Linked DNA regions of Homo sapiens. The protein of the gene in region 3 purifies or fractionates together with the protein of the main gene of each other region. This does not show direct contact. Each region holds a gene or a part of one and is shown on either strand. Other genes may lie near its edges.

Region 1 (3,653 bases), on a different chromosome or scaffold from region 3:
ATCCCAGCACTTTGGGAGGCTGAGGTGGGCAGATCTCCTGAGGTCAGGAGTTTGAGACCAAGCTGGCCAACATGGCGAAACCCTGTCTCTACAAAAAATTACAAAAATTAGCCGGGAATGGTGGTGAATGCCTGTAGTCCCAGTTACTGGGTTGGCTGAGGCAGGAGATTCATGTGAACCTGGGAGGTGGAGGTTGCAGTGAACTAAGATCATGCCACCACACTCTAGCCTGGGCAACAGAGCGAGGCTTCGTCTCAAAAAAAAAAAAGGAAAAACTTTGTGCTATGGCTTTGATTTGTCTTTTGTCAGTAATGTTTAATCTATTTTGAATTCTAACTAAAATGGAAGAAAAAGTATGATATTTCTTTATCTCAGAGTAGGAGTTTGTTGAGATACTTTTCTAGGATACAGTATTATATTTAGATGTAAGCTAATTTGTTGGATTTTTTGTTGTATGTTTATTTTTGTAGGGGAATATCAATTGTTAATTTTTATCTATCCTTGATAGGTTAGATGGAGTCAGATTTGAAAATGAAAAAATTAATGTTATTGCCAAGAACACTGGTAATAAACTGAAGCTAAGTCAGAAAAAATGGTAAGTAAGGAAAGGAAGATTAACATTTCATGTCTGGATTTTGGCACTTAAGTGTGGAAATAGATCTCTGCTTACCCACATATGAAGCAAAATGTATAGGTAGATACCCTCTTACCTTTTCTAGTATTCTGCATTTCTGGAAATGTTGGGGAGCTGTTGAAGTAAATTGATAAAATATTAACTGCTGAAGACATCAAAGGAGTTTTTTCTTTCCGATGACTTTCTAATAGAGAGTGGAACTTTTAATTTTTATTTTTTCTTGCCTGAATTTTGTGCCTTGTTATAATTAGGAAATGTTATTAGCCCCCAAACCAATTAATTATACCTCTTCATCATTGTTATGATTATTGCCTTTAGTATAAAAAATTCTTAGTAATAAATATACTATTCTAAATATATTGTTAAAAAGTTTTGTTTTTAGGGCCTGGTGTGGTGGCTCACGCCTGTAATCTCAGCACTTTGGGGGGCCGAGGCAGGTGGATCACCTGAGGTCAAGAGCCTGATTAACATGGTGAAATCCTGTCTCTACGAAGAAAATACAAAAATTAGCCGGGCATAGTGGCGGGTGCCTGTGATCCCAGCCACTTGGGAGGCTGAGGCAGGAGAATCACTTGTACTCGGGAGGCGGAGGTTGCAGTGAGACAAGATTGCACCATTGCACTCCAGCCTGGGTGGCAGAACGAGACCCCGTTTCAAAGAAAAAAAAAGTTTTGTTTTTAGCTATTCATGCTTCCTCTGTAAGTGAAAAGGTTTTGGAGAAGGATAAACTGTGGAGTTGTTTCAACTGTGCTTGGCCCAGATTAGCTACTACAAATAAGTGAATTACAGAGACTTAAATATGATATCACTTAGTATTATATTATTAACAGTTTTTCTGGAATAAAAAAAAGGAAAATCAGAAAAATACTTTTTGAATATTTGTATTCGGCTCCCTTTTCAAATATTGTCTTTACTCTAAGGCCCTTATCTTCCCTGTGGTGGAAAAAGATGAAGTATTTTATTGTATGTATTCCTGCAAGTTATTTATTCTCTGCCACCTTTAAGAGAAAACTGAAAGTTAAGCCAAATCCTATAATCTTTTTCACTAAATATGTAAAGAAATTGCTCTTGCTTCAATTAAACATTTTCTTGCAGTTCATTTCTGTGTGACGTGACCATGAAATCAGTGGATGGAAAGGAATTTCCTTGTCATAAATGTGTTCTTTGTGCTAGACTTGGTAGGTGCACTTTTTAAAGCTGCTGATTTATTTGCTGTAGTATTGTTTCACTATTCTTATTGCATTGAACTTTTTTTTCTTTTAGAATATTTTCATAGTATGCTGAGTAGCTCATGGATTGAGGTAAGATTTAAGTAAAAAGCGCCTAGGTTGGTAACTATGTTTCTTTATATTTTGTGCAAAGTATGTAGTAAAGAAATTCAAAATCAGAACTGGATATTTTAGCTCAGTTTTTCATTTATATTAAACTTTATGCTTGAGGCTGCTGGAAAATAGCAACACTTAGAATTTAAAATTATTGCCAAGAAGCTACTTAAATAAAAATTTCCCCGTTATTATTTAGAAATGTATTAGGAACACCACTGTGTTTCTTGTTTTCTGAATTTTTTTGTTCCTTTTTCATGTTATGTTTTAAAATTAAATTTAATATTATTTTAGCCATGTGTTTTGTAAATTTTATGTTTTGCATTTGATGTGATTTCCTGTTCAGAGTGTTTTGTACCAATAACCCAAATTAGAATGTAATATTTTATTGTTTAGAATGAATTATTTTACTTTATTTTGTCTTATTTTATTTAGGCTTCCAGTTGTGCAGCTCTGGAAATGCCAATACATTCTGATATATTAAAAGTTATTTTGGACTACCTCTATACTGATGAAGCTGTGGTGATAAAAGGTATTAATAAGAGTTAGGACATTGTAGATACTTCACATATAATGGAATAATGGTAAAATCAACGTGAATCTTAATTTCTAATAGAAAAAAACCATCAATAAAGGCTTAATTTATTTTATTTTTAAAATATTTAATTTATTTTTTATTATTTATGGAGACCGGGGTCTTACTATGTTGCCCAGGCTAGTCTCAAACTCCTAGGCTCAAGGGATTATTCCACCTCGGCCTTCCAAAGTGCTAGGATTATAGCGTGAGCCACTATGCCTGGCCAATAAAGGCTTAATTTAGAATAAGCAATAGGAATGATTGCTAATAGTAAAGGAGCAGAAAAAGGTTTTCATTACCCATGTGAAAATGAACTCTTTGAGAATTAGTGCTTGCTTCGGCAGCAAGTATACTAAAACTGGAATGATACAGAGATTACATGGCCCCTGTACAAGAATGACACGCAAATTTGTGAAGCGTTTCATTAAAAAAAAAAAAAAAGGAATTGTAGGTAATGGTTGAAATTAGATTCAGCAGTTCAATTTCCAGCTACTTCTATGATGGAGATGAATGAATTGACAACAGGGATAGTTTTGACAAATACTTACATAAGTTCTTTCTTACCTGTTTTTCCCCTTTGTGGTTACACATCTTGAAAGAAACAGATTAAAAATTGTACCAAAATTTATGAAGAGAGGTCATTTATGTACTTTGTTAGGCAAAACAGTAACTTTTAGTTACAAGATATGTTTACTCATTGGAATGGTACTGGATGTTCTGTCATATTCCATTAGTTTTTTTTAACCCCAGCTGTATACTGGGGATAAAAATAAGTGGATAGACCTTTTTTTATATTCAAGAAACTCAATCTAGTGGAGAAGACAAATGTATAAGAAAACAAATATAATCCAACAGAGTAATTCTCTAAAAAGCAGATGCATTTTTAAGAAGCTAGCCTCTGAGTCTGCCTAGGAAATCTGGGTAGTCTTGTAAGGAGATAGAGTTTAACTGAGGACAAAATTTCTGAAGATTTGTATACTTGAGAGTAAGATAACTGAGACATGGTATGTTTTTCTCTACTTTCATTCTTTTTAAAAATCGAGAAATTATTTGCATGATAAAACTTATACTTTTAAAGCATACAATAAGTAGTTTTTAGTATGTTTATGAATTTGTGCAA
Region 2 (3,653 bases), on a different chromosome or scaffold from region 3:
TGAGAGGGAGTCTCGCTCTGTCAGCCAGGCTGGAGTGCAATGGCGCGATCTCAGCTCACTGCAACCTCTGCCTCCCAGGTTCAAGCAATTCTCCTGCCTCAGCCACCTGAGTAGCTGGGATTACAGGTGCGCTCAAAGACACCCAGCTAATTTTTGTATTTTTAGTAGAGACAGGGTTTCACTGTGTTGGCCAGGCTGGTCTCAAACCTCTAACCTCAGGTTATCCACCTGCTTCGGCCTCACAGAGTGCTGGGATTACAGGAGTGAGCCACCGTGCCTGACCTACACGTTTTCAGTTTTTTTTTTTTGTTTTTTTTTTGAGACGGAGTCTCGCTCTGTCGCCCAGGCTGGAGTGCAGTGGCGTGATCTTGGCTCACTGCAAGCTCCACCTCCTGGGTTCACGCCATTCTCCTGCCTCAGCCTCCCGAGTAGCTGGGACTACAGGCGCCCGCCACCACACCCGGCTAATTTTTTTTTTGTATTTTTAGTAGACACAGGGTTTCACCATGTTAGCCAGGATGGTCTCGATCTCCTGACCTCGTGATCCACCCGCCTCGGCCTCCCAAAGTGCTGGGATTACAGGCATGAGCCACTGCGCCCGGCCAACATTTTCTTGTACTTACTCATATGTAAGCACTTAACAGTAAAAAAAAAAAAGACATACCTTAATACAGTGAAAAAAATAATGTGTTCAGGGTAACTAAGCAGCACAGTAGCATCACCAGAGTACCTGAATTAGCTGTTCAACAACAACAAAAACACAATAGGCTGGATGAACTGTGTTGTGAGCCTGCATTTTGACTTTGACCAGTCTGGGTCAAGTATGGAATTTTCTACTTCTGGCATCATGTCAGCATTCAAAAAGTTTTGGATTTGTAACATTTCAGATTTTTAGACTAGGGATGCTTGGTTTGTATTCCATTTATGTGAAATGTCCAGAAAAAGGCACATTTATAGAGAAAGAAAGATAGTGGTTGCCTAGCAATGGGAACAGGGATTGACTGCCAGTGAGCGTGAAGGATCTTTGTGGGATGATGGAAATTGTCTAAAACTGGAGTACAGTTCTTTAAATTTACTAAAAATCATTGAATTGTACGTTTAAAATGGGTGAAATTTATGGTATGTAAATTATCTCAATAAGGCTGTTTTAAAATAGCATTGGGCAGAAACCAACATTAAAAGAAGCTGGTGATATACTTGGTTTGGAAAAAAACGTGTGTTATGAAGGGTATGTACATGTGTGGTTTTATGGGTTTTATTTATATATTAACATGCTTCTAATCGAAAGGGAGAGACAATGACCTTTGGCTTGAGAAGCTTTGATCTCTGTATAAGATATTTCTATAGTCTAAATCAAATGTTACTTATAAAACAAAACAAAAATCAAAGTTCATTATCTTCTCTTTGGCAAGATTTGTTCCCTATAATTGATACTGTAAGGCTATCAAAATGATGAAGGAGGGAGGGAAAGAGAAAGGAAGAAGGATTTGATTGATTGAGGTGGAATTTATCTTTCAGATTGCTTATTAGTTATCTGTTGGATAACTAGACCCTTTGGAAGAAGCAGAAGTTCAGAGAGCTGGTGACTTGGTAGATATGAAGTTTTATTTCTAAAATATGCACGATTATTTTCTGTTTCCTTATCAACTTAGAAATCAGTAAGTTGATCTCAGAAGTTTTCTGTAGATAGTGTATGAATCCTGTGGGGCAATGCAAACATGCATTGTGGTGATTGGTCTTTTATGTAGTATGTGAAAATGGAGTTGATAAACCCTAACCTACGAGGCAGACTTGTTGTCAGATATTTGCGTGCTGCCCTCTAATAGAGTATACGGTCCCTGTCATCCAGTCCCCTATGCAGCTGTTTTTTATTCTGTGTAGGGTGTCCAATTGTCTTCTGCTTGTGACAGTGGTATGCTGGTACATATTTAACAAACCCTTTCTGGGAAAAATAACCCCAATTTGTGGTGTTTGTTGATTTCTGTGGTATAAATACTCACCATGTTCCCTGGTAGCTACATGTGTGACCATGGAATTGGAAAGAGATGCATGCAGTGGCTCTCCTGAGCTGGTGTGAGCTGGCTCCCGCACCTGTACCTGCTTTCAGTGTGATAATCTTCTGGTTCCCTTATAATAGAGGATACTGAAAATCCCAAACCTCTACCATAAACATTTCTTTTCCTCACCAAAGCTGACATGGATGCCAGTGTTGATTGTGTATATTAGGTAGTATTTATCAATAGTAATCTCAGTCTTTAACATCTTATTCAGAAACTTTTCTTAAAGGAATACTACATGTAATTCTATATTAAATAAAAGTTTCTAAAGTAAATCATTTAGGGTAACCACGGTTTGTGTTTATAATGCCAAATAGTAAGCAAAATTGAGTCTTATAAGGAAGTTAGGATACTTCAGAATTAAAATAGAGAAAACATTGTTGTTTTGAGGTCTTTTGGATTTTTACAGTATCCCGTGGAATAAGGTGAAAATGCCCCAGAGCTACTAGGGCTTCATGCTGTGGTAGATGATGATACTGAAAAGTTCCATAAGTTGAAATGTATCAAATGTATGGATTACTTTATAATCATGTTTATCTTTAACAGCAGTTTAATGGATTAAGTGTTCCTATTCTTCAACATCCAGACCTTCAAGATGTGTTACTTATTCCTGTTATTGGACCCAGGTTTGTAAGAACTTCATTTCCAAATTATATTATTCTCAATAAAAGTTTGTCACAGGGAGCTTTTTAATTGTTCAGTGATAATACTAAGTTTCTCCATTGTTAGCAACTTTCTATAGATAACAGGAATTCAAAACTTCATAAATGCAGACTTTAGACTCTGTCATGGAAAATAATACAAAAGAAGGCTAGGAATGGGCCCAAGGATCTTGAGAATAATGCATTTTAGGTCCATTTAGTGCAGTGATGTTTTCCCCCCCCCACTTTCTGTGAAGTTTTATTTCATTTGTTTACTTGTATTTCATATGAATTTTCAGTGCTAAATTAAAACTCTTTTTTGAGCTGCAACAAAAATATAGAGTAACCTGTTTTCTACTTTCATAGCTGATATGTTTGTAAAATTTTATTTTTTGAGAAAGCGTCCTGCTCTGTTACCCAGGCTGGAGTGCAGGGACACAAGCATAGCTCATTGCAGGCTCGAACTTCTGGACTCAGGCAATTATACCACCTCAGCTTCTGAGTAGCTGGGACTACAGTTGCGCACCACTGCACCTGGCTAATTTATTTTTTATTTTGTAGAAACAGTCACACTATGTGTCCCAGGCTGGTATTGAAGTCCTAGCCTCAAACAATCCTCCCACCTTAGCCTCTCAAAGTATTGGGATTACTGATGTGAGCCACGTTGCCCAGCCTGTAAAATTTTATTCATAATTCAACAATTATGTTAAACTACTGTGTCCCATTTATGTTCTGCGCGTTTACGTATTTGGAAAGCATATGTTTGAAAATTGAAAAATAGGTTTCAGGCTGGATCTGGTGGCTTACTTATTCCTGTTATCCCAGCACTTTGGGAGGCTGAGGTAGGCGGATCCCTTGAGCCCAGGGGTTGGAGACCAGTCTGGGCAACATGGCAAAACCTTACCTCTAGTAAAAGAAATTACAAAAATTAGCTGGGTATGGTGGTGCTTACCTG
Region 3 (4,268 bases):
CGACACCCTAAGAGGGGCAATAACTGGCCAAACAGCTCATAATGCATGTATATCTACCCCACAAAACTTATATTTAGCCACAGAATAGAAGGAATCCAGGACCCTGATCTTAGCTTGACTTTGAAGAATCCTTGAATATCTCCCATAATTTGAAAATGAATTGTTATGACAGCCTGCTAGCTTCTGTAGAGACATGAAAGGGATACAAATAATGGTTAATTTTTACTAGATGCTTACCAGATGACAGGGCCTATGCTAAGTACCTAATATATTAAGTTGAATTGTTTGAAACTTCTAATATCTGATATTCGATCTGCCAAATAATTTCAAAAAGTTCAGCCTAAAGACATTATACCTCTGAGTCTTTGCCATCTTCCTATGAAATGGGTACTATTATCACACCCATTTTACAGATTGAAAATGAAGCCTTTAATTTAAAAATGAAAATGTTCTTCCCATAAGTGTAATGTTATTTACTTATGAGTAATATTAATGCAGCCTTGTGTGCAAATTGGTGGCCTGAAACCATGTAGTATACCTAAGACATGAACAATAATAATTCACATATATTACCTTTTTCAGGGAACTTGGATAAATTTCTAATTAATAAACTTCTATAATAATTAAATAATTAAAGAAATACTTTTAAAATGTTATTTATAAGAGTAAAAAAGGCATTAGAAAACAAGAAATTTGATGTTTGGACATGTATTCTCTATATCTCACATGGAAGAATTAGAAACTGTAGCCTAGGGCTCCCCAGAATGAAGTAATTGTCTTGAAATTTTCCATAATGCTCAGATAAAGAAGTAGGGTGATTTTACAACCTTGTCTACATGCAAATTATGACCAATAATATTCTGAATTAAGGCCATCTGGTTTTGTGATTACTTACAAATAATATTGAGCTGAATTCACAATCAGTTCACAAATAGCAGTTGGGCTAAGGAATTATTAATACTAACTAAATGAGATGATACTATGTTGAATCAGAAAAACGAACTGGTGAAAACTGCAAAATGGACTTTGAAAAAAATATTTAAAGGTACATGACTGTTCTTTCAATATGAAACAAAAACTTTAAATGTTCCATTCACAAAAAAGCATTGAGTAATGCCATGCGATTTATTAGCTCTACATGATAAATCCCCCAAGTTCACAAACTGGGCTCCTGGCCACCTAGCAAAGAGGACTTGCACGTAATTCCATGTGTTTTCTGATTGACTGGTAAATTGTTATCAGTAAGAGTCTGATAATAAGACAAGCAATTCTTTTCACTTCTAAAGAGGCAGAGCTATTTCGCCTGCAACTTTTTTGTTTTCTGTATTTTTTTAATTCACAAAAGACATGCAACACCTGCAACTTTAAAAAGTGAGGCATCCATAGGCTCTATACCCAGCCTGACCTCCTCTGGAGCTCCATCTCATGAAGTGCTTTAAACCCTGGCACACCAAAGAATCCCAAACTCATGCCACCACCTACTAAGTCAGACTCCAACAAAGAACTGGAGCACTTTTGTTTCTAAGTGACCATCAGGCACCTAATATTATTTTCCCTTCAGTAAAATATAAGTGATAATCCTTGTCCTACCCCACTAATGATGTAAAAATAATATAACCATACAGTAAGAAATCAAACATGCTTTGAAAAATTGCAGCATAGGGCTAAACAAGAGCCACTGCATAAAGCAAAGAAGTTTTGAAGAAGAAAGGGATCTTGAAGGTTGTTATTTCCAGTTTTTTCATTTTATGAAGAAAGAACCTGAAACAGGAGGTAGACATTTGCCCAGACTGGATCACCTACTGAGAAGTAGAGTTTGGTCTCCTGACCCTTTGTCCAATGCTTTTTCTACCAAACTACATTATTAGGATTATTCCTGTTGCTTTTGTTATTAGTGATGTTAAGAAGCACAAGACTATTTTTAGATAAAGAGATAGACTGACCTAGCAAAGCAGCCATACTCCTTCTGGGTAAGAACCGCTGGTCTGCACTGCAGAAACTTTGTTCTTAATAACCCTGGTGTCCTAAGAAGTCTATCAAGAGATGAAGAGGTTTGCCATTGTGCCTTACAACTTTTAGATAATTAAATGCCTGGGAAATCTTATTTCAAGATCAGGCTAGCGACGAGTATTGAGACAAACAGAGTTATTCATGAAAACGTTAACACTGAACCCAAAACTTAACCATTCTAAACACCAGTTTCTTCCACTAAAAAATAAGAAAGCTGGGGTAGATCATCCCATTGAATGCTAGTGTTGTATTAATCTATGTTTCATTAAATTTAGTATGTTTCATTAAATTTAGTATGTTTCATAGAAAGTTCAAGTTTTATCGAATCATAATACTTGCTACCTAAAATGTTATTCATAATTTAAAAACCAAACATAACCTTGCAGGGGGAAAAAGCTGATGAATGTTAAATTTACAGTTTTTAGAACTGAAATCACCTAGCACCACCATTTCACCTCTTGACTGCTCTCTGCATTCTCCTCTGATTACTTTTACTGTACTTTTTATGTTGTTACAATAAGCATGTTTGTGTTTCCTGTGCTCTATTTTATGCTATGTATATATTTTTGCATTAGCCCAGTCCAAACATAAAATGCTATGCGAAAAAAGACAAATGAAACTGCTCACATACCCCATGACGATCTTCAAAGTATGCCAGGCTGGCTTTGGTTAACACAAAGAAGCGGACTTTAAAGTTCGAGGGAGAAGTTCTTCTCTTTTGTTGGGATTTCTTGATGAGCTGTTCTTCCAGGAGGATAAAGTTGTTCATGATCCAGTTCTTGAAAGGTGGTGCACCTTGGGCATCACCTCTTAGCACAACCAAAGGAAAGAGTTTTGGGGCAAAGAATGCAATGTGGAGGCAGTTGATCTTCAGAGAGCTGCTCAAGGGCAACTTGCCTTCAACGTTATCTTTCTATCAACGTTCAGCCAACATAGCTGAGCTTCTCCTCTGATGTCAAAGGCCGAAACCACATCCTTTCAAAATTCACAAAACGAGGAGGCATATGTAAAAAATACATACAGCCTTTGCTAATGGCTTGAAATGATATTTGAAAAACTGTAAACTCAAAATTGTGGTAAGGATTACAGTTTAATCTTTATAGTTCCTGGTTTAATCCATCCAGCAGTTAAATCATGTAGCACAAGGAGTAAGGACAATGTGTGGTTTTGCTTACCATGATATACTCAGCAACCATCACAGTACCTGACACATAAAACAGATGTTCAAGAAAAATTTGTTGAATGGATCATCACCAAATTGGGTTGGACAATTAAAAGAGGTAATGAGCACAAAACCCTCACACATTAAAGTGAAGAAATATGTTGCTGAAGTTTATTAGTTTTTAAGATTTAAATTAAAGCCCATAGAAATTTCTCAATGCTACATATAGATGACTGCCTTTCTGTCCTGACGTTTTGTGGAAGAGTGAAAAATAAGTGAATCCTTCAGAATGGCATAATAAACAAAGTATATGTGGGCTTTGAAAACAGACAAACTTGTGTTGGATTCCCAGCTCTGTCACTTACTATGCTGTTTCTCTTTGAGCAAGCCATGACTTCTCTGATCCTTAGCTTCCTTGTGAGGGTCCTTTGGAGGACTGAATCCCATACATCTTATGAATGGTAGGTGCTAGTCATACATGTCACCTTAGAGTTAGTACATAGTTGAAGTATAATGTGTGACAGTTACCTCTACTATGTTAATAATCAAGAGATTTTAGTGTAAGCAGATATTGCATGTAGTGGGTAGGGATAAATAATAAATGAAATAATAATTATTGCTGTATAGGAGTGAAATTCTCCAATGTTTATTTTTAAATGTAAATTACCAGACAACAGCCTAATTTTATTTCATATACTGGATGCCCCAGCATAATCAAGACACCCAGGAGGGTACGGTACTGGTATATTTTAAATTACCTCCCCCATTCTGAGATTCTTAAGACATATGTGTGGAAATACACTGCCCAAACAAGATAGTATTTTTTTTTTCTGAGTATGGGCTTGAGGTAGGGATTGCTACTATTCCCAAATAGCTACTCTCTCCTTCTTACTAGAGTAACAGAATCCCTGACAGTTATCTGGGCATCTGGCCAGCAAGAATAAAGACTACAAATTTTAGCCTCCCTTGTAGCTAGGTGTAGTTGTATGACTGTCTTCTGGTCAACTGAATGTAGCAGAAGTCGTGTGCACAACTTCTAGGAAATTTCCTTAGTGGGATCTGTCATCCCCTTTTCTTTCCCTTTTCCTCCTGCCTT

The links.
Region 1: the proteins of ITK (region 3) and IBTK purify together in Homo sapiens (affinity purification with western blotting, with the first as the bait; one study listed by BioGRID). This does not show direct contact.
Region 2: the proteins of ITK (region 3) and NSUN6 fractionate together in Homo sapiens (co-fractionation; one large-scale study listed by BioGRID). This does not show direct contact.

The regions. Positions count from the first base shown.
Region 1 is NC_000006.12:82,209,649-82,213,301, reverse strand, and holds part of IBTK (inhibitor of Bruton tyrosine kinase), read left to right. Parts: intron 1-508; coding exon 509-595; intron 596-1,729; coding exon 1,730-1,812; intron 1,813-1,897; coding exon 1,898-1,935; intron 1,936-2,391; coding exon 2,392-2,488; intron 2,489-3,653. UniProt on the Homo sapiens protein: Acts as an inhibitor of BTK tyrosine kinase activity, thereby playing a role in B-cell development. Down-regulates BTK kinase activity, leading to interference with BTK-mediated calcium mobilization and NF-kappa-B-driven transcription.
Region 2 is NC_000010.11:18,641,506-18,645,158, reverse strand, and holds part of NSUN6 (tRNA (cytosine(72)-C(5))-methyltransferase NSUN6), read left to right. Parts: intron 1-1,518; exon of another isoform or gene 1,519-1,590; intron 1,591-2,603; coding exon 2,604-2,683; intron 2,684-3,653. UniProt on the Homo sapiens protein: S-adenosyl-L-methionine-dependent methyltransferase that specifically methylates the C5 position of cytosine 72 in tRNA(Thr)(TGT) and tRNA(Cys)(GCA). In vitro also methylates tRNA(Thr)(AGT).
Region 3 is NC_000005.10:157,179,489-157,183,756, reverse strand, and holds the start of ITK (tyrosine-protein kinase ITK/TSK), read right to left. Parts: upstream 2,918-4,268; 5' UTR 2,780-2,917; coding exon 2,642-2,779; intron 1-2,641. UniProt on the Homo sapiens protein: Tyrosine kinase that plays an essential role in regulation of the adaptive immune response. Regulates the development, function and differentiation of conventional T-cells and nonconventional NKT-cells.